Regions from separate parts of the Homo sapiens genome. Here regions 2, 3, 4 and 5 are each linked to region 1. Evidence: fine-mapped expression QTL. A gene starts in region 1. Each other region holds a variant in brackets. All regions are shown on one strand. Distances are between the middles of the regions. Region 1 holds the start of ACP3 (acid phosphatase 3). Region 2 has its middle 30 kb from the start of TRC-GCA9-1. Region 3 has its middle 38 kb from the start of TRC-GCA9-1. Region 4 holds the start of LOC124909435 (a long non-coding RNA gene). Region 5 has its middle 36 kb from the start of ACP3.

What was found. PIP is the estimated chance that this variant, and not a neighbour inherited with it, causes the effect. A credible set is the group of variants that fine-mapping cannot tell apart.
Region 2: its variant is the best candidate, but not a certain one, in a credible set for the expression of ACP3 in whole blood (TOPMed, PIP 0.81).
Region 3: its variant is the best candidate, but not a certain one, in a credible set for the expression of ACP3 in whole blood (TOPMed, PIP 0.53).
Region 4: its variant is the best candidate, but not a certain one, in a credible set for the expression of ACP3 in whole blood (TOPMed, PIP 0.85).
Region 5: its variant is the best candidate, but not a certain one, in a credible set for the expression of ACP3 in sun-exposed skin (GTEx, PIP 0.64).

What each region holds. Positions count from the first base shown.
Region 1 is chr3:132,315,472-132,319,592 of GRCh38, reverse strand. ACP3 (acid phosphatase 3) reads right to left here and starts at 2,186. Exons shown (of 10, transcript NM_001099.5): 1 at 2,017-2,186. The coding sequence starts at 2,136.
Region 2 is chr3:132,259,451-132,263,571 of GRCh38, reverse strand. No RefSeq gene overlaps it. Among named protein-coding and RNA genes, the nearest start is that of TRC-GCA9-1, 30 kb to the right of the region's middle. The variant C/T (reference allele first, on the strand shown) is at 1,869.
Region 3 is chr3:132,267,338-132,271,458 of GRCh38, reverse strand. No RefSeq gene overlaps it. Among named protein-coding and RNA genes, the nearest start is that of TRC-GCA9-1, 38 kb to the right of the region's middle. The variant C/A (reference allele first, on the strand shown) is at 2,169.
Region 4 is chr3:132,374,291-132,378,411 of GRCh38, reverse strand. It overlaps LOC124909435 (a long non-coding RNA gene), which reads right to left and starts at 1,623. Exons shown (of 2, transcript XR_007096093.1): 1 at 1,050-1,623. The variant A/C (reference allele first, on the strand shown) is at 2,072.
Region 5 is chr3:132,279,159-132,283,279 of GRCh38, reverse strand. It overlaps the pseudogene LOC124906374. Among named protein-coding and RNA genes, the nearest start is that of ACP3, 36 kb to the left of the region's middle. The variant T/C (reference allele first, on the strand shown) is at 2,403.

The DNA.
Region 1 (4,121 bases):
CAAATAAACATACAGGATGCCCAAATATTGCATGGGACTAAAAAATTATTTGCTATTTATCTGAAGTTCAAATTCAAATGGTCATCCCATATTTTATTTAACGACCTTATTTTAGAGGATTGTTGACAGGCTTATGTGATACAATTCATATTGAACACTCAGAACAGTGCCTTGTAAGCACTCAATTGCAGTAAGTACTTGCAGTAAGCACTCAATTGACTATTGGTTATTATCATTAATATTACCACTTTAGTTATGGGCATCTTTTAAAACAATTCTGGTTCTCCTAATAATTTTCTAAGAGTTATCTCATTTGTATAAATTAACCACTTATAGTCAAATATTCTCTTTAGTCAATAAAAATAAGAAACTGATGTTTATTGGCTTAAGTACTTAGATGGACGTTGTTTTATAAGGGCCAAGAAAGATGTATTAAATGGCCCTTCATCTACCATTAATGGAAGGAAATCATGGTAGGAAAAAATAGTTAACACTGGCTTTGTGCAATATTTGTTAATTTTTTTAGTTCTAAGAGAGCTAGCTTTGTATTTTGGCTTTCCTCAGGAAAGAATTAACTTGCAGTCCCTGAATATAGGAAACCCACAACAATTTGGTAGTCAAAGGAAGTTAGCCTGGGCTAACTTGGGTAAAACATGGAGGAGGGAATACATCATGTACAGTGAGCTTGGAGTAACTTGGATTTCTCAGAGGACTGCCACTCAACCAGCTTGTCACAGGTTTACAGTATTACAAGCACGGCAGATGCAGTACAATTTCTACAGTCCCTAAACTTGCCTCATGCACATGTTAGCAAGAAAACTACTGATAGAAGTACAAGCCTAGCTCACATGGGTTTCCCTAAAGAAGGCACACAGTATTATATATTTTTTTTCTGCACAGAAGTCTGACAGCTGGTGAATCATTTGTAAATAAATTGATAGTTTGTTTCACTGGGTTTTCTGTCATTGTTGACTCATGACCTAGTAAGGATTTACTGGACTATAAGAATAATGATTCAAATAAGCACATGGGTATCATATTTTCTGTAGAAAGTAAAGAGCTTTGAATATCCCATGCTGAAAAAAAAAAAAGCCTGAACTTTAATTTTTAAGGAAACAGTGACTTTCCTTCAAATTATAAAAATAATTTTTGAGTATTCTTGACAGAAAGAAAATTTACCTACTTATCAGCCCACTTTCACTATCTCAAATAAAAAAATGTAGGGAAGAGAAAGAAAACGAGAGAGGAAAGGCAAGAAGCAGCTTAGAGGCTTAGAGGCAGAGAAAGAGTGAAACAGAAGGAAAAAAAGATACAGAAACAGAAAATCAGACTCTTAGGTAACATGATGAATCCCCTTCACTTTGCAAACCCTCTTTCCATCTATTTTCAAACAATGTCAACAGTATATTTTCTTTTCTTGATATTATGCATCAGCCACCCCCCACCTTTTTTCATAACTGGTCACATGTGCCAATGATTTTAATCGTCAACTAAATCTATATATCAGAAAATCATCCTAAAATTCCAAATTTAGATTCACTTTTATGCTTCAAGGTTGTTTACAAATAGTTGTTCTAATTTCCTGATAAACAAAGGTGAAAGGACTACTTAATTCAGAAAATGACTGTTTTTTGGCTTGCAAACAAATAATGATTAAATTGAATGAAGCCAGCTCTTGGTACATAAACAGCGCCAGCTGTGGTTTCTTCTGGACTGGTGTGGCTGTCAAAAGGAATCTGAATTCAAGGCAGTTGTAAAGTAAGTAAATAAATAACATCAGCAAAAGCAAATAAAAAGCAACCCCTAAAAAAACAGCGACCAAAAAATATTTTTGTTAGGACACGTTAGGTCTTCATTAAGAGGAACTTGCAAAACTTGATTATTCACTTTCTGAGTTTGAACAGAGCCTGGTCTCTGGGAAACAATCCAAGGATAAGATGAAACCTGACGCTTGCCTTATCAGACTTTGCTGGGAACACAGTTTTAAGGAAAAAGCAATGAGAAAAGTCTACTTACCAAAGTCACAAACTTCAACTCCTTGGCTAGTACACTTCGGTCTAGCCAGAAAAAAAGCAGAAACAAGAAGCCAAGGCTAAGGCTTGCTGCCCTGGCCAGGAGGAGGGGTGCAGCTCTCATGTTGAGGAGAGCTGTTTCTGGCAGGAGTTAGGAGGAACTGCTACCACTTCAAAAGCCTGTAGAGGGGAAGCTATTTAATTAAGGGATTGAAAGGGAAGGAGGAGCCACACTCATAAGTAGTAAAGTTTCCAGGAAGCGTAGGGCAGGTTTGGTATGTAAATAATGTCATGTAAATTTTGAGCTGAGAGAGATCACAGTTTCCCCATTTAAGTTAGGACACCAAGGCCAAGAGCGGGGAAAGCTGTTGATCAAGGTCACAGAGCATGTTAGCAGACATTTCTATCCTTGTTTTCAGTTTACTTTTATCTTTGTTTTTTGTTTTTTTTTTTTTGAGACAGAGTCTTGCTCTGTCATCCAGGCTGGAGCACAGTGGCACAATCTCAGCTCACTGCAAACTCCGCCTCCCAGGTTCAAGCAATTCTCCTGCTTCAGTCTTCCTGAGTAGCTGGGATTACAGGCGTGCACCACCACACCCGGCGAATTTTTGTATTTTTAGTAGAGACGGGGTTTCACCATGTTGGTTAGGCTGGTCTCCAACTCCTAACCGCATGATCCGCCTGCCTTGGCCTCCCAAAGTGCTGAGATTACAGGCATGAGCCACTGTGCCAAGCCAGTTTACTTTTATCTTTTCTTTAGATAGGGTATGATACAGCGTTGGATTTGTGGCTGTCACTTGGGAAAGGGATCTACCCTGACTTTAGAAACCTTAGACCAGTGATTCTTAATCTGTTGGGAGTCCAAAGTTATAGGACTGAAATCTGGAAGGAAATACAGGTGTTGACATATTTGGGGCCTATTTCCATGCCAAACATGGCTACTTTTTCAAAAACTCTCATGTAGCCTATAGAGGTATTTTTAAATTAAAGAAGAAAAGTAACAGCAAGTTTATTTTGAAAAATTTTAGGCTGGGCGTGGTGGCTCATGTCTGTAATCCCAGCACTTTGGGAGGCCGAGGTGGGCAGATCACTTGAGGTCAGGAGTTAAGACCAGCCTGGCCAGCATGGTGAAACCCCATCTCTACTAAAAATACAAAAAAAAAAAATTAGCCTGGCGTGGTGGCACATGCCTATAGTCCCAGCTACCTGGGAGGCGAGGCAGGAGAGTCACTTGAACCCAGGAGGTGGAGGTTGCAGTGAGCCGAGATTGTGCCACTGCACTCCAGCCTGAGTGACAGAGCAAGACTCCATCTCAAAACACAGCAAAACAAACAAACAACAACAAAAAACAAACAAAAGAAAAATTTTAGTCACACCTTAAGACAATTGGACATTACCTGTGGTATCTCAAAATTAGATTGGAGGTCCCTTTCCAAACCTGACAGAGTTTTTTAAGAAAGCAAAAAGCCCAAACCTACAATTCTATATTATTAGTCATCAACTTTGGCCATAAGCCTTAAATTTTGAGTGAGTTACATCCTTGCCTCTCCAGCTATGATCTCACTGGGGACACTACAAAAGGCGATCCAGACTGATGGAACTTTGCTTTCCATTTTCCCCAACCTGTCAGTTCCATCATAGGCTAAAACAATACAAACTTGAGGTGCACATTGAGATTTTGCAAGATTTGGGGGCAGAGCTGCCTGTCATGATATTTCTATCATAATGGCAGAGGGAGAACAATGGTTTACCCGCAACCTGTTTCCTGGTACATTGCGCTTACCTGTGGCAGGAGGATTGTGTTCTTATGTGATCATAGGATGCCCTGGAATGTGGTATATGGGAGAACTGTTCCTTCTTCCGGCAGTAGGAAACATGCGCAAATAGGCTGGGCATGGTGGCTCACGCCTGTAATCCCACCACTTTGGGAGGCTGAGGTGGGCAGATCACTTGAGATCAGGAGTTCGAGACCAGCCTGGTCAATGTGGTGAAACCCCATATCTACTAAAAATACAAAAATTAGCCAGGTGTGGTGGTGGGAGCCTGTAATCCCAGCTACCTGGGAGGCTGGGGCAGGAGAATCACTTGAATCCGGGAGGCTGAGGTTGC
Region 2 (4,121 bases), 56 kb after region 1:
CCTAATTTTTCTTTTTTTTCAGAGATGAGGAGTTTCTATGTTGTCCAGGCTGGTCTCAGACTTGGGATCCAGTGATTCTCATGTGTCTGCCTCCTCAAATGCTAGAATTACAGTTGTGAGCCACCAGGGGAAGGAGTTCTTTAGGTAGGCAAGAGGGTGACATTAATTGAGGATTGAGAGGGGGTAGAATTTTAGGCAGAGATAGGGGAATTAGCAGAGGAATGGAGTTGTGTCCAGAGTGTGTGTGTGTGTGTGTGTGAGTGTGAGGGTGTGTGATATGTATGTGGAGTGTGTGGGGTGTGTATGTGCAGTGTGTGTGTGGTGTGTATGTATGAGCATGTGTGTGGTATGTGTGGGGTATATGTTTCTGTGTGTGAGTGGGTATGGTGTCTGTGATGTATATGTGTGTGTGGTATGTGTGGGTGTGTGTGGTGTATGCGGTGTGTGTGACAGTGTGTATGGTATGTGTGTATATGATGTGTATGTAGAGTATATGTGGTATGGATGGAGTGTTTGCATGGCGTGTGTGTGGTGTGTGTGAGTGGGTATGATGTGTATGTAAAGTGTGGTGTGTGAGTGTGTGTGAAGGAGGTTGAGCAGATAAGAAGGGGACAAAATGTTGGGGATGGGGTGAGGGGTGGTGAGTATCCTGTGCTGTCAGGGGTTTGGACTTGATCTTGTAGGCCCCAGGAGAGCAGTAACAGGTTTGTTTAGGAAAGGTCACCTTGCCAGCTGTGGGAAGGATAGTCAATTAGGAAGTCCCTGTGGTAATATTAGTGCTGGTGATGACCCACTTCGCACTCCCTCTCCAGAAAAATCTCTGTGCTCTTGGGGCCTTGAAAAGCAGACCAATACCTCTGATATCATTCTCTAAATTTAACCTTTTCAGACTTGAGTGGGCATACAATCTTCTTGTTGAAATGCAATTATGGTTCCATAGGTCTGGGTGGGGTCTGAGTCTCTGTAGTTCTAATGAGCTCCGGGTGATGCCAATGCTGTTGCTCCACAGGCATGCTTTGGAGAGGAAGGCTTCACCCTGTTTGCAAACTACAATAGCCTGGATTATAAAGAAATATTGATGTCTGGTGCCACCCTAGATATTCTGATGCAATAGGTGTAGGTGTAGGGTTTAGGCGGGGCACTAAGAATTTTAAAAGTGCCCCAGGTGAGGGATCAGTTTTTTTTTTTGTTTGGTTGTTTTGTTTGTTTTAAATTTTTCAATCCCTTCATGATTTTAAAAAATACACTAAAAATAAATTAATAGAAAAATAAAATTGAGAAAAAAGACTTGCAAATATAAGCCAGAATTTAAAAAAATTATCGTTAGATTCAACAGATGTGAAATGACTGTGTCAAGTTGCTATACAGGTTCTGTTTGCTTACTCTTCATTTCTGCACTTTTCTTGTTAGCGACCAGTAACAAAGAGTAGACCTACAACAGTCCTTGGACTACACTTTGAGCATCAGTACACCACACTCATAGCTGAAACCACCAGCCATTCAAGGAGGGCAGAGAATAGGGGATTCATCATTCCAGGGGGGCAGGAGCAATTGCTTTACCTTGGGATGGCTACTGGTGGCTAGAATGGGCCTGATGGAATGAGATTTCTTGCTCACTGTGTTTCCAGATTCTATAGTACCTGGTGAGATCTAAGGGCTCTTAATGATTCCCTGGTGGTGGTGGTGGTGGTGGTGGTGGCGGTGGCTTCACCTGTCAGAAAAATCATTATGGAAGAAGAAGGAGGGAAACTTTTTCTAGCTTCTTGGGTCTTTCTCTATAAATCTTTTCTCTTTGCCTTCAAGTTTTGTTGTGGTATAGTTATTGGGTTTAAACTTCCTCCTTGAGAATGGTGACAGCTACCTTCTCC[C/T]ACGCTATATTTTGCAATAAGCCTTGTTATTTTGTACAGGTTATTTCTTTTCCATGCCTTAAAATGCCAGCTAAAACCCTTAGGACAATGTTACATAGAAGTAGCGAAAGTCATTGGGTGCCCATGAGTTGTTTCTGACTTTACAAAAAATGCATTCAATGTGTTACCACATTTTTTTCTTTTTCTTTTGCTGGGGGTGGGAATTTGTGGGGGTTACTCTTTATTAGGTTAAAGAAATTCTCCCCTATTCTCGATATGTTAGGAGTTTTTCTTCTTTTTTAAAATGATGAGTATTATTGAGGTTCTTTTTAATCTATTGAGATGATGACATAAGTTCATAAATGTATTAAGTGGAGAATTAAAAGATTTTCTAGACTGGGCGCGGTGGCTCACGCCTGTAATCCCAGCACTTTGGGAGGCTGAGGTGGGCAGATCACGAGGTCAGGAGATCAAGACCATCCTGGCTAACATGGTGAAACCCCGTCTCTACTAAAAATACAAAAAATTAGCTGGGCGTGGTGGTGGGCGCCTGTGGTCCCAGCTACTCGGGAGGCTGAGGCAGGAGAATGGCATGAACCCGGAGGCAGAGCCGAGATCATGCCACTGCACTCCAGCCTGGGTGACAGAGCAAGACTCTGTCTCAAAAAAAAAAAATAAATAAAAATAAAAATAAATAAAAAAATAAAAAATAAAAAAAGATTTTCTAGTGTTATGCCTTCTAATGAAAGTATTTCTGGGAAAATCCATTTTATTCATGTTATATTTTATACACATCACTGGATTTGCTTTACTTTGTGTTTAGCATTTTTTGCTTAGTTAGTAATAAGAGTGTCCTGTGACTTTTCTCATTCATACTTCATCATATTGGACATCAAAGTTATGCTAAACTCATCAAATGATTCTCTGTTTACCTGAAAGAGTTTATAGAAGACTAGAATTACTTGTTTAATGAATGTTTCGTAGAGCTTGCTGGTTAAACCCTTGAAGCCCGAAGTTTTTGTGGGCAGATTTTTAACTAATGACTCAAATTCTATAATTGTTGTAGTGTTCACTTATTTTTGTAGTGTGAATACTCCCACCCTGGCCAACATCAAGCTACCAACAGTTTAACAATCAGCTCACAAAATTCTTTAATAATTGACTTAATAATTGACTCCTGGATTCCTGTCTGAGATGGATGCATGACACCCATTGATAGGGTTGTATCTTCTGGATTTTTAATTGAAATTGCATTATATTTTTCTACAAATTTATTCATTTCTTTGTTTTCAAATTTATTGGCATAAAATTATACTATTCTCTCGGTATCTTTTAAATCTCGACATTATATTTAGCTATGTCCTTTACATTTTTAATATTATTTTTTTTCCTTGCTCAATCATGCAAATAGTTTGTCAACTTTTGTCTTTGTTGGTCCTCTCTACTGTATATGTGCTTTATATTGCATTAATTTCTACTTATCTTTATTTTTTCTTCCATCTACTTTTGCTGGGTTTATTCTGTTTCTCTTTTCTTAACTTCTTAAGTGGGATGCTCTGTCTGCCAAGGTCCTGGCAAGAAATAGATGGCATAGTCAAAGGAAGACTTAAGAGAGTGTAAGGAGGAGAGTATTTACATAAATGTGTCAGGGTTAAAGAAACCAATAAGAGATGAGTTACCCAGAACTAGCAACAGTAGTAAGCCTCATTACTCAGTTGTGAGGGGGAAGGTAGACTCTTTCCAGACCTTTGATAAAGGGGCTGCTCAAAAAAGCCACGACCTTGGGCCTCTGCTAAAACCATGGCTTTAAGTAAGGAGGGAGCAGATATATAAAAATCCTTATCCCTCTTTCTAATCTCTTATGTCCTGTGAGTGTCACCCATTGAGTAAACCCAAGTGGAAGTCAGCAGGAAAGTAGCTGGGATGATGCAGTCTTTACAGGTAAGCCTTTTGGAAGCACAGAACAATGGACAGAAGGGCAACTAATAGATCTACAGGGGTGCCCTGAAAGTGATCAGCAGAGAGACTTAGCTATTGATTTCAATCTCTCCCGTCCTCTCATTGGTATATTTAAGGTTATATATTTCCTTTTAAGTACTATTTTAGCTGCATTTCATAAATTATAAAATGAGGTAGTCCATTATTATTCATTGCCGAATATATTGTAAGTCCTATTAAGATTTCTTCTATAACCCATGAAGTATTTAGATGTATGTTTATTTCCATACATAAGCGGTTTTGTGTGTTTGGTATTTATTTCTAACTTAACCACAT
Region 3 (4,121 bases), 48 kb after region 1:
ATCAAAAATTAAAAAACCCACAAATTTATTATCTCATGGTTCTAGAGGTCAGGAGCCGAAAATAGGTCTCACTGGGCTAAAATTAAGGTGTTGGTAGGGCTGCATTCCTTCTAGAGGTTCTAGGTGAAACTGCCATTTGCTTGCTTTTCCATTTCTAGAGGCTGCCTGTATTCCTTGGTTCATGGCCCCTTTCTGTCCTTAAAGCTAGCAGTGGCTGGTTGAAACTTTCTCACATGGCATCACTCGAACACAGACTCTTCTTCGGCTTCCCTCTTTCACTGTAAGGAGCCTTATGGTTTCACTGGGCCCATCTGGGTAATCCGGGATACTCTCCCTAGTTTAAAATCAAATGACAAGTAAACTTCATTTCCTACACAACCTTAATTCTCCTTTTGCATATTGACAGTTTCCAGGGATTAGGACATGAGCATCTTTGGGGACATTATTCTGTCTACCATAGCTACCTATCTCATAGGGCTATTGAGAGGATTCAATGAGTTTTAGGCTATAAAGCACTTTGCACAATGCTTAGCATGATGTAAATAATAAATGTTATCCTTATTGGTGTGAGTATTAGCTTATGTCTTCAGTCTCTCCCTCTTTACCCTTCATACTGGACTCAGAGTTGTATTTCAGGAGACCGGTTTCATCCTATTGTCCCCATCTTTAGTTCTTACTCTGTGTCCTCCTCTGTTCTCCCGCTACACTGTGTTTTCTATATATCAGTTTACCATTCTCGCTCTCTTTCTTTTTTTTTTCTCTTTTTTTGTGATGGAGTCTCACTCTGTCCCCCAGGCTGGAGGGCAGTGGTGCAATCTCAGCTCACTGCAACCTTTGCCTCCCTGGTTCAAGTGATTCTCCTGCCTCAGCCTCCTGAGTAGCTGGGATTACAGGCATGCACCATCACGCCTGGCTAATTTTTTGTATTTTTAGTAGAGACAGGGTTTCACTGTATTAGCCAGCATGGCTCGATCTCCTGACTTCATGCCCCACCACCCGCCTTGGCCTCCCAAAGTTCTGGGATTACAGGAGTGAACCACCGTGCCGGGCCTCTCTCTCTGTTTTTTTTTTTTTTTTTTTTCTGAGACACAGTCTCACTCTGTTGCCCAGGCTGGAGTGCAGTGGTGCTATCTCAGCTCACTGCAACCTCTGCCTCTGCCTCCTGGTTCAAGCAATTCTGCCTCAGCCTCCCGAGTAGCTGGGACTACAGGCGCACTCCACTGCGCCCAGCTTATTTTGTATTTTTGTAGAGACAGAGTCTCAAACATTCTGACCTCAAGTGATCAGCCCACCTCGGCCTCCCGAAGTGTTGGGATTACGGGCGTGAGCCACCACACCCGGCCTCAACTTACTATTCTCTAATTGTTGACTTACCTGTCTTCCACCAGAATGTAAGTGATTGTGTCAAAGTATGGTGCATGAACCAGCAACATTGGCGTCACTTGGAAGGTTGTTAGAAATGCAAAATCTAAGCCCCTGCACCCCACCCCCAACCCCACTTTTGCATCAAATGAATCAAAATTTGCTTTTTAACAAGATCTCCAAGTGATTCACATGTCCGTTAAAGTTTGAAAAATATTGTTCTGAAATATAACTGCCTGATAAATTGTAGGCACTCAATAAATGTTTATTGAATAAAATAAAAATTACACCAGGCACTTGTGTTAGATGGGAGAAGCACAGAAATAACAGGCATGGTTTTCCACAGCTCGTTGAATGATTCTGCTCTTATATTTCTTCATGTCTTTGTATAGCCTACATGATGGTCATCTCAGAATTGTTTAAAGGTGCAAGCTTGAGCTCCTATGAAATTACAAAGAGGCATCACATAGTTCAGATAGGCAAGGAATTTTTAATCTGTTTTGCTTACCACCATATCCTAACACCTGGGATAATGCCAGGCATATAAGCAGATGCTTCATAAATATTGTTGAATGAGTGAATCCGTGTGTTTTTTGTTTGTTTGTTTGTTTGTTTGAGATGGAGTCTCGTTCTGTCGCTCAGGCTAGGGTGCAGTGGCACGATCTTGGCTCACTGCAACCTCCACCTCCTGGGTTCAAGCGATTCTCCTGCCTCAGCCTGCCAAATATCTGGGATTACAGGTGCCTGCCACTGCACCTGGCTAATTTTTGTATTTTTAGTAGAGATGGGGGTTTCAACATGTTGGC[C/A]AGGCTGGTCTCGAACTCCTGACCTTGTGATCCACCTGCTTCAGTCTCCCAAAGTGCTGGTATTACAGGTATGAGCCACTGCGCCTGGCTGGCCATGTGTTTCTTTTTCTCCCAGTGGGAAACTTCACCACAAGGGGGACCCATTTGCAGCTCAAATCCATTCAAGAAGGTATTTCTTTCACCAAAAAGCCTCAAGATATACCATGCTTTTCTCCTTGTTCCACCACAGGAGACTGCTAATCACTAAGAACAAACAGGCAGCTGCTCTGGAAAGTAAATGTTTAAATAAGAAAGAGGGAGAGAAAGCTGCAGGGTTTGTCACCAAAGAGAGAATGTGGGAGTTCAGTCAGGCTGGTGGGAAAAATTTTAAGATGAAATTATAGGAATTAAACACAAACCCTCTTAGAAGGCCTGGGGGTTTGTGTAAAGTGTTTGGCTGAAGACAGCTGAACTCCCTTAAAAGCGTAGGGTGTAGATACATAGGAATATAGAGTAGTTTATCTAAATAGCTTGTTTACTCATGTGGTCCTAAGACCAACCTTTAATCAACCACGGGTGCATAATTTCTGTCTACTGGTGGATCGGCAACCAGGTCAATTACCCTCTAACAGTGTTTACTCAAGACCTTTGTCATTTAATCCATACTGAATAAATGTGAGCTTTGTTGGCTGAACGGGGCCACGGCTGCTACTCTTTACAGCACCTTCCTTGGTATCTGTGAGGGGCCCGGACCCTTAGCCAGACTGACAAGCAGAATATATGTGTCAGTGTACGTTATTCATCTGTCATTGGGTCAGTGTCTGTAGGATGGACCCCCGCAAGAGAAGCCATTTGCTGGCCAACAATTCACATAGTAAGCAGGAGAATTCTTCATGGCAAAACTATTGGCAAAGTCTCCGTTATGAAAGTGTCCCTGGAATATACATTGAAACAGGTATTAAAAGTACAGGTTCTGGTCCAAGAAAACAGGGCAGGTTGTACTGGGATGAAAACAGCATAAGACTCAGAAGAGTGGATCAGCAGATCATAAACAGTGAAAGAAGATTTGAAATCTGGTGTAACAGTTCCAGTGGCTAAGACTTTTACCAGTTCCTTGGTGATGAGAAAATGGAAATTAATGCCAAACCAATCTCAGTAGATATGGAACTGTGTGCCTGCTACTGGAGCTGTGCAGTAAACTCTACATGGTTCTCATGCCATAGTCATTCTTTTTGTTGTTGTTGTTTTGTTCTTTTTTTTTTTTTTTTTTTTAGATAGAAAGCGATTTGCCCACTTTGACCTCCCAAAGTGCTGGGATTATAGGCGTGAGCCACTGTGCCTGGCCCCATAGTCACTCTTAATGAATTGTTTGCTGTTGTCCTCAAGCCCTGAATTAAACTGTACCTACAAGTATCGGCCTGGGTGAACACAGGTGACAGATGCTCAATGCTGAGATACAGGATAACTCCCTGTCCTCACTGGTTTAATGATGTTTGTTTTTCTCTAAGAATGTATTTGCAATATGTCTGCATATCCGTTCTCTGCTTAGAGAACACTGTGTCTTGACTCTCAGCTCTAAGTTCACTTTTATATCTTCTTTTACAGCCAGCATAAATGTCACCCTTTCCCAAGTCTTTCCTGACTCTCCCAAGGAGTTATTTTGACACTATCTCTGCCATCCCATAGCCTTTGTACTTACCTCTCTTATAATACAGTTACTTATTTACCTGATCATCTCTCTAGATAAACTGCCAACTACTACAGCTATAGGCTGCACCTGATTCTCCTTTAATCTTCCTCCTGACTCCCAGAAATCACCAGCATGTAGTAGGCACCTGTAAATGCTCGTAAGTAGACCTTGGTCTCATCACCAGGACAGGCAGCCAAGCCTCACTGGTTCTTGGAAGATGTTAGTTAAGGGACAGTTGACTTGCTGTGGGCAAACATCTGGCCTTTAATTATTTAGCTGGTTAA
Region 4 (4,121 bases), 59 kb before region 1:
GCTTTAAAAAAAAGTTTTTAGAGGAACATAATAGAATAGCATCCAGAGTCTTTACAATATATTATTCCAATGTCTAAGACAAAATCCAAAATTGGTCTACATAAAAGGAAACAGAAAAACAGAACCCATATAGGAAAGGACAACAAAGACTGGTCTTGAAATGACTAAGATATTGCAATTAGCATGTGAGAATTTTAAAGCAGCTATTCAAGAAGAACTTTTCTTGGGGAAACACATACATGGCTAAAACGAAAACCAACACTAACCATCTCTATTAATCCTCCAAGCTCTTCATTTGTGGATTATGATTTACAAGAATTTGAGAAAAAAACCATAGCATTAAACACAAGGTCCAAGATTAATAAACCCAAAAAACTGAGCCCAGAGAAAACAGATAATTTAGGGAGCAGAGGAGAACTTGAAAAAATTATTAGTATCCTTAAAGATTTTCAAGAGGAGATTGCACTGATAAAATAATGAGGCTGCCAGGTGTGGTGGCATGTGCCTGTAATCTCAGCTGTTTGGGAGGCTGAGGCAGGAGGATCCCTTGAGCCTAGGAGTTTGAGGCTGCAGTGAGCTGTGATACTGCCATTGCACTCCAGCTGGGGCAACAGAGTGAGACCCCATTTCTGAAAACAGACAAACAAAAAACAGCTACGGTGAAAAAAAGAACAGTCAGTAAATACCAAAGAAAAGAATACTCGTAAGTAAAACAGGAATAATGGATTTGCTGACGACCAAGTTGATGTTCTGGAAAACGAAATTTACTGGAATGTAGAGAAATAAAATAAATGGTGGAAAATATGAGAGAAAACTCAAGGCATGGAGGATAGACCCAAGAAATTCAAGTTCCAGAACACAATTTTTCTTAGTTGGAGAAAGACAAGTGTCTTTAGATGGAAAAAAATCATATCAGCCATACAGAATTAGACAGAAAACAAACAAAAACCCAAAATACCCATGCCTAAACACAACCTGGTGAAATTTCAGAACTCTAAGCTAAAGAGAATATCTTAAAAGAATTAGAAAAAGCAAAACAGATTACTTACATTGGAATGAGAATCAGACTGATAGACTTCTCATCAGCAATCCTGTATGCTGGAAGACAGCAGAATACCGCCTTCAAAGTTTTGGTAGAAAATGATTTTCAGGGGGAGGAGCCAAGATGGCCGAATAGGAACAGCTCCCGTCTACAGCTCCCAGCGTGAGCGACGCAGAATACGGGTGATTTCTGCATTTCCATCTGAGGTACCGGGTTCATCTCCTAGGGAGTGCCAGACAGTGGGCGCAGGCCAGTGGGTGCGCGCACCGTGCGCGAACCGAAGCAGGGCGAGGGCCTCACTCGGGAAGCGCAAGGGGTCAGGGAGTTCCCTTTCCTAGTCAAAGAAAGGGGTGACGGACGCACCTGGAAAATTGGGTCACTCCCACCCGAATACTGCGCTTTTCCGACAGGCTTAAAACACGGCGCACCACGAGATTATAACCCGCACCTGGCTCGGAGGGTCCTACGCCCGCCCACGGAGTCTCGCTGATTGCTAGCACAGCAGTCTAAGATCAAACTGCAAGGCGGCAGCGAGGCTGGGGGAGGGGCGCCCGCCATTGCCCAGGCTTGCTTAGGTAAACAAAGCAGCAGGGAAGCTCGAACTGGGTGGAGCCCACCACAGCTCAAGGAGGCCTGCCTGCCTCTGTAGGCTCCACCTCTGGGGCCAGGGCACAGACAAACAAAAAGACAGCAGTAACCTCTGCAGACTTAAATGTCCCTGTCTGACAGCTTTGAAGAGAGCAGTGGTTCTCCCAGCACGCAGCTGGAGATCTGAGAACGGGCAGACTGCCTCCTCAAGTGGGTCCCTGACCCCTGACCCCCAAGCAGCCTAACTGGGAGGCACCCCCCAGCAGGGACACACTGACACCTCACACGGCAGGGTATTCCAACAGACCTGCAGCTGAGGGTCCTGTCTGTTAGAAGGAAAACTAACAAACAGAAAGGACATCCACACCAAAAACCCATCTGTACATCACCATCATCAAAGACCAAAAGTAGATAAAACCACAAAGATGGGGAAAAAACAGA[A/C]CAGAAAAACTGGAAACTCTAAAAAGCAGAGCGGCTCTCCTCCTCCAAAGGAACGCAGTTCCTCACCAGCAACGGAACAAAGCTGGATGGAGAATGACTTTGACGAGCTGAGAGAAGAAGGCTTCAGAAGATCAAATTACCCTGAGCTACGGAAGGACATTCAGACCAAAGGCAAAGAAGTTGAAAACTTTGAAAAAAATTTAGAAGAATGTATAACTAGAATAACCAATACAGAGAAGTGCTTAAAGGAGCTGATGGAGCTGAAAACCAAGGCTCGAGAACTACGTGAAGAATGCAGAAGCCTCAGGAGCTGATGCGATCAACTGGAAGAAAGGGTATCAGCAATGGAAGATGAAATGAATGAAATGAAGTGAGAAGGGAAGTTTAGAGAAAAAAGAATAAAAAGAAATGAGCAAAGACTCCAAGAAATATGGGACTATGTGAAAAGACCAAATCTACGTCTGACTGGTGTACCTGCAAGTGATGGGGAGAATGGAACCAAGTTGGAAAACACTCTGCAGGATATTATCCAGGAGAACTTCCCCAATCTAGCAAGGCAGGCCAACATTCAGATTCAGGAAATACAGAGAACGCCACAAAGATACTCCTCGAGAAGAGCAACTCCAAGACACATAATTGTCAGATTCACCAAAGTTGAAATGAAGGAAAAAATGTTAAGGGCAGCCAGAGAGAAAGGTCGGGTTACCCTCAAAGGGAAGCCCATCAGACTAACAGCGGATCTCTCGGCAGAAACCCTACAAGCCAGAAGAGAGTGGGGGCCAATATTCAACATTCTTAAAGAAAAGAATTTTCAACCCAGAATTTCATATCCAGCCAAACTAAGCTTCATAAGTGAAGGAGAAATAAAATACTTTACAGACAAGCAAATGCTGAGAGATTTTGTCACCACCAGGCCTGCCCTAAAAGAGCTCCTGAAGGAAGTGCTAAACATGGAAAGGAACAACCGGTACCAGCCGCTGCAAAATCATGCCAAAATGTAAAGACCATCGAGACTAGGAAGAAACTGCATCAACTAACGAGCAAAATCACCAGCTAACATCATAATGACAGGATCAGATTCACACATAACAATATTAACTTTAAATGTAAATGGACTAAATGCTCCAATTAAAAGACACAGACTGGCAAATTGGATAAAGAGTCAAGACCCATCAGTGTGCTGTGTTCAGGAAATCCATCTCACGTGCAGAGACACACATAGGCTCAAAATAAAAGGATGGAGGAAGATCTACCAAGCAAATGGAAAACAAAAAAAGGCAGGGGTTGCAATCCTAGTCTCTGATAAAACAGACTTTAAACCAACAAAGATCAAAAGAGACCAAGAAGGCCATTACATAATGGTAAAGGGATCAATTCAACAACAAGAGCTAACTATCCTAAATATATATGCACCCAATACAGGAGCACCCAGATTCATAAAGCAAGTCCTGAGTGACCTACAAAGAGACTTAGACTCCCACACATTAATAATGGGAGACTTTAACACCCCACTGTCAACATTAGACAGATCAACGAGACAGAAAGTCAACAAGGATACCCAGGAATTGAACTCAGCTCTGCACCAAGTGGACCTAATAGACATCTACAGAACTCTCCACCCCAAATCAACAGAATATATATTTTTTTCAGCACCACACCACACCTATTCCAAAATTGACCACATAGTTGGAAGTAAAGCACTCCTAAGCAAACGTAAAAGAACAGAAATTATAACAAACTGTCTCTCAGACCACAGTGCAATCAAACTAGACCTCAGGATTAAGAAACTCACTCCAAACCACTTAACTACATGGAAACTGAACAACCTGCTCCTGAATGACTACTGGGTACATAACGAAATAAAGGCAGAAATAAAGTTGTTCTTTGAAACCAACGAGAACAAAGACACAACATACCAGAATCTCTGGGATGCATTCAAAGCAGTGTGTAGAGGGAAATTTATAGCACTAAATGCCCACAAGAGAAAGCAGGAAAGATCCAAAATTGACACCCTAACATCACAATTAAAAGAACTAGAAAAGCAAGAGCA
Region 5 (4,121 bases), 36 kb after region 1:
TAAATAAAGAGTACAGAGGTGGGCACATCAGCTCATGCCCATAATACTGGCGCTTTGGTAGGTCAAGCCAGGAGGATTGATTGAGCCCAAGATTTGGAGGCCAGCCTGGGCAACATAGCAAGACCCTGTTCCTAAATTTTTTTTTTTTTAAATTAGCCAAGCATGGTGGTGTATGCCTATAGTCTCAGCTACTCTGGAGACTGAGGCAGAAGAGGATCACTTGAGCCCAGGAGTTGGAGACCAGCCTGGGCAATATAGCAAGACCTTGCCTTTTAAAAAGTGGGGGAAAAAAAAAAAAAAGGAAGGCATTTTGTTCCTGACTACCTGCCTCACCCATTACTTTCATGTTCCTGGAATTTTTGATATGAAGAACAATGTATAGCCTATCAGTAGCTTATGTGATTTTAATATAAAATACTTGGTAAGCAACTTAGGAACTGCTTCTTCTTTTTCTTTAGAAACCTACTTGTAACTGTAGCTAATCAGAGCATATATTCAGGGCAACTTAAATCTATGTTCACAAGTTGCAGTCTTCAAACTTGGTCCAAATAAAATCTCTACTTACGTTAAGTTGGCCTCAATTTTTTCCTTTAGGTTGACATTCCTTTGATCTTTTAATATGTTGAATTTTTAAATTTCTTCATTGAATCCTTGATCATTTTGCATTTTTTTTAATAGATGTTTTCTTTTTCCATTATTTTATTTTGGATTTTTAAATAGTGTTCATAAAATATTGGTCTATAGTTTTCTGTGTTATTATTTTCAGATTTTGGTGTCAAAGTTATACTGGTTTTGTAAATACTGATTGAATAGCCTTTTTCCCTTATGCTTTGGAACTATTTTAATAACACTGGCAAGCTTTGTTCCTTGTAGATTTGACCGAAGTTGATTGAAGCCCTCTGTGAAATTGTCTGAATTTAGTGTTTTTAAAAGGGTAACCATTTGATCACTTTCTCAGTTTCTTTGTAGTATTTTGTGTCCTTGGTTTTGTCCATCTCTTTTGCTGTCATTTTTGGTAAATTAACTTACATTTAGTATAAACTTGTAATTTATATTAAAATAATCTATTTCATCCAGTTTTTATAATCTTTTAAAATTCCCTTTATGTGCATGTATATTTTTCTCACTTCTAAATGTGTTCATTTTGTATTGCCTTTTAAAAATTATATTAGCCAGTTAAGCTACCTATTTCATTGTTTTTCTAAGATTCAGTTCTTAGATGTATTTATTAGTCCTGTCTCTCTGTTTTTTTTCTGTAATTCATGGTTTTTTACTTTCATCTTTCATGTTTCTTTTGGTTTACTTTAGCTTTCTTCTTCTAAAATGTTTTGATTTAAAAGCTTAATTTAAAAGCTTTGTCAACAAAAAGAGTCAAACTCTATAAAATATTTGAAGAGATTTATTCTGAGCCAAATATGAGTGATCATGACCTGTGACACAGCCCTCAGCCCTCAGAAGGTTGGGGTGCAGCTTGGTTTTATACATTTTAGGCGGGCATGAGACATCAATCAAATACATGTTAGAAATACATTGGTTTGATCCAGAAAAATGATACAACTCAAAGTCAGGGGTGTGGGATTCCAGGCTATAGGTAAATTTAAACATTTTCTGGTTGACAATTGGCTGAGTTTGTCTAAAGATCTGAGACTGACAGAAAGGAAATATTTGGGTTAAGATAAAAGATTATGGAGGCCAAGGTTCCTTTGAAGTCTTATTGTGGCTGCCCTTAGAGATAATAGATGGCAAATATTTCATATTCAGATCTTTAAAAGGTGCTAAACTTTTAGTTAATCTCTAGGATTGGGAGGGCCTGGAAGAAAAAGATCTAGTTACGTTAACAGAGATTCTTTACAGACACAAATTTTCCCCCACAAAGGACAGCTTTGCAGGGCCATTTCAAGATATGGCAAATAAACATGTTTTGGGGTGAAATATTTCAATTTTCTTCCTTGTCTCATAATGTTATGCTAGAGTCAGGTTGGAAAGCCACGATATATAGGGTTAAATAAAACCCATCTGATGAGAACTTATGGTTTATAGGGCATGACTCCTCAGACTCTTTAGATGGGAATTTGGGCAAGATAAAAAAATCAGTTTAGTCCTCAACTCTTTATTGGTTAATATTAAAAATGTTTAAAGTTATGAATTTTTTCTCATGGTTTTTGAGGTTTCCCATAGTTTCTCATGCATTGTGATTTTATTGTTATTTTCTAAATTATTTACAATTCTTTTCTTTTTCCATGTCAGATGGGTAATGTGCGGATGTGGTAAAAAGGTTTAAAAAAGGCTGCCGGGCACGGTGGCTCACGCCTGTAATCCCAGCACTTTGAGAGGCCGGGGCGGGTGGATCACGAGGTCAAGGGTTCAAGACCAGCCTGACCAAGATGGTGAAACCCCGTCTC[T/C]ACTAAAAATACAAAAAATTAGCCAGGCATGGTGGCGGGTGCCTGTAATCCCAGCTACTTGGGAGGCTGAGGCAGAGAAATGCTTGAACTCGGGAGGCGGAGGTTGCAGAGAGCCGAGATCACGCCACTGCACTCCAGCCTGGGAGACGGAGCGAGACTCTGTCTCAAAAAACAAACAAACAAAAACAAAAAAAAAGAAAGGCACATCTCACACATGAACGTGAAAACCCAGTAATCACTGTTATGAACTACAAAAGGATCTATTTACTTTACTTGATTTGAATTTTTTCTGAAACAAATTCAGAGAGAGTTTTAAAGTTTTTTGGCTGTAGGACACTTTTTTTATTTTTATTAATTTTCAAAGATAAGCTACAGTCTTACTGTAATTAAATTTTTACCTATTTCTCATTACATTTTTAGAAGTTGTTGACTTATGGATTTAGATGCTGCATAAAAATTTACAATAATTAAATCTTCATTGTAGACAGGGGCATTTATCTTGATATAGTGACCATTTTTATAATTTTTTTTCTCCTACCAAAGTGGCAAACTTTCCCCGGTTAACACATAGATAAGCCTTTTCTTTGTATTATTATATATATATATATATATTCTAATCTTCCTCCCATTTTGAGACTGTCCCTCATCAAAACAACCTACATCCCATAGTGGTATGGTTTAAATGTACCCTTTAAAACTCACATTGAAACTTAATCCCCAGTGTGACAGTATTGAGAGGTGGGGTCTTTAAGACATGATTGAATTCTGGGTGTGGTGGCTCACACCTGTAATCCCAGCACCTTGGGGGGCTGAGGTGGGAGGATCACCTGAGGTCAGGAGTTCAAGACCAGCCTGACCAACAGGGTGAAACCCCATCTCTACTAAAAATACAAAATTAGCTGGGTAAGATGGTTCATGCCTGTAATCTCAGCTACTCGGGAGGCTGAGGCAGGAGAATCGTTTGAACCTGGGAAGCAGAGGTTGCAGTGAGCCGAGATTGCACCGAGCCGAGATCGCACCATTGCACTCCAGCCTAGGCAACAAGAGCAAAACTCTGTCTCAGAGAAAACAAAAAAAGACATGATTGCATGAGGACTCTCCCTCAAGAATGGAATAATCCATCCATGGACTAATGGGTTAATGGATTATTATGTTATCATGGGAGGGGAACTGGTGGCTTTATAAGAAGAGAAAGAGAGACCTGAGCTCATGCTCAGCACCTTTGCCATGTGATATCCCGTGCTGCCTCGGGACTCTGTAAAGAAGTCCCCAGCAAGAAGGCTGTCACTAGATGCAACCCCTCGACCTTGGACTTAGCCTCCTGATCTGTAGAAAATAAATTCCTTTTCTTTATAAAATACACAGTTTCAGGTATTCTAAGCAACACAAAATGAACTAAGATGTAATAAACAACCAGATGAATTTATAATTTCTACAGTTTGATCCACAGCTTCAATTACAATGTTAGAGTTTCAGATGTTTTTAGATCCTTTCTTAGCACAAAGGAAAATGTAGAATGTGGAGGAACATATTCCTCATAAAACCAACCAATAAAACTTACAAACGTATAACTTGGACAACAGAGGGAGCAGAAGGCTGCTAGCTAGAGGTTTTCTTAAAGAATCCCCTGGGGAGCTGGTAAGAAATTCATGCTCCTGGAATCTCAAGATTTGGAAGGTTCAGTGGAAGCAGAAATGGGAATTTCAAGCAAGTACTACA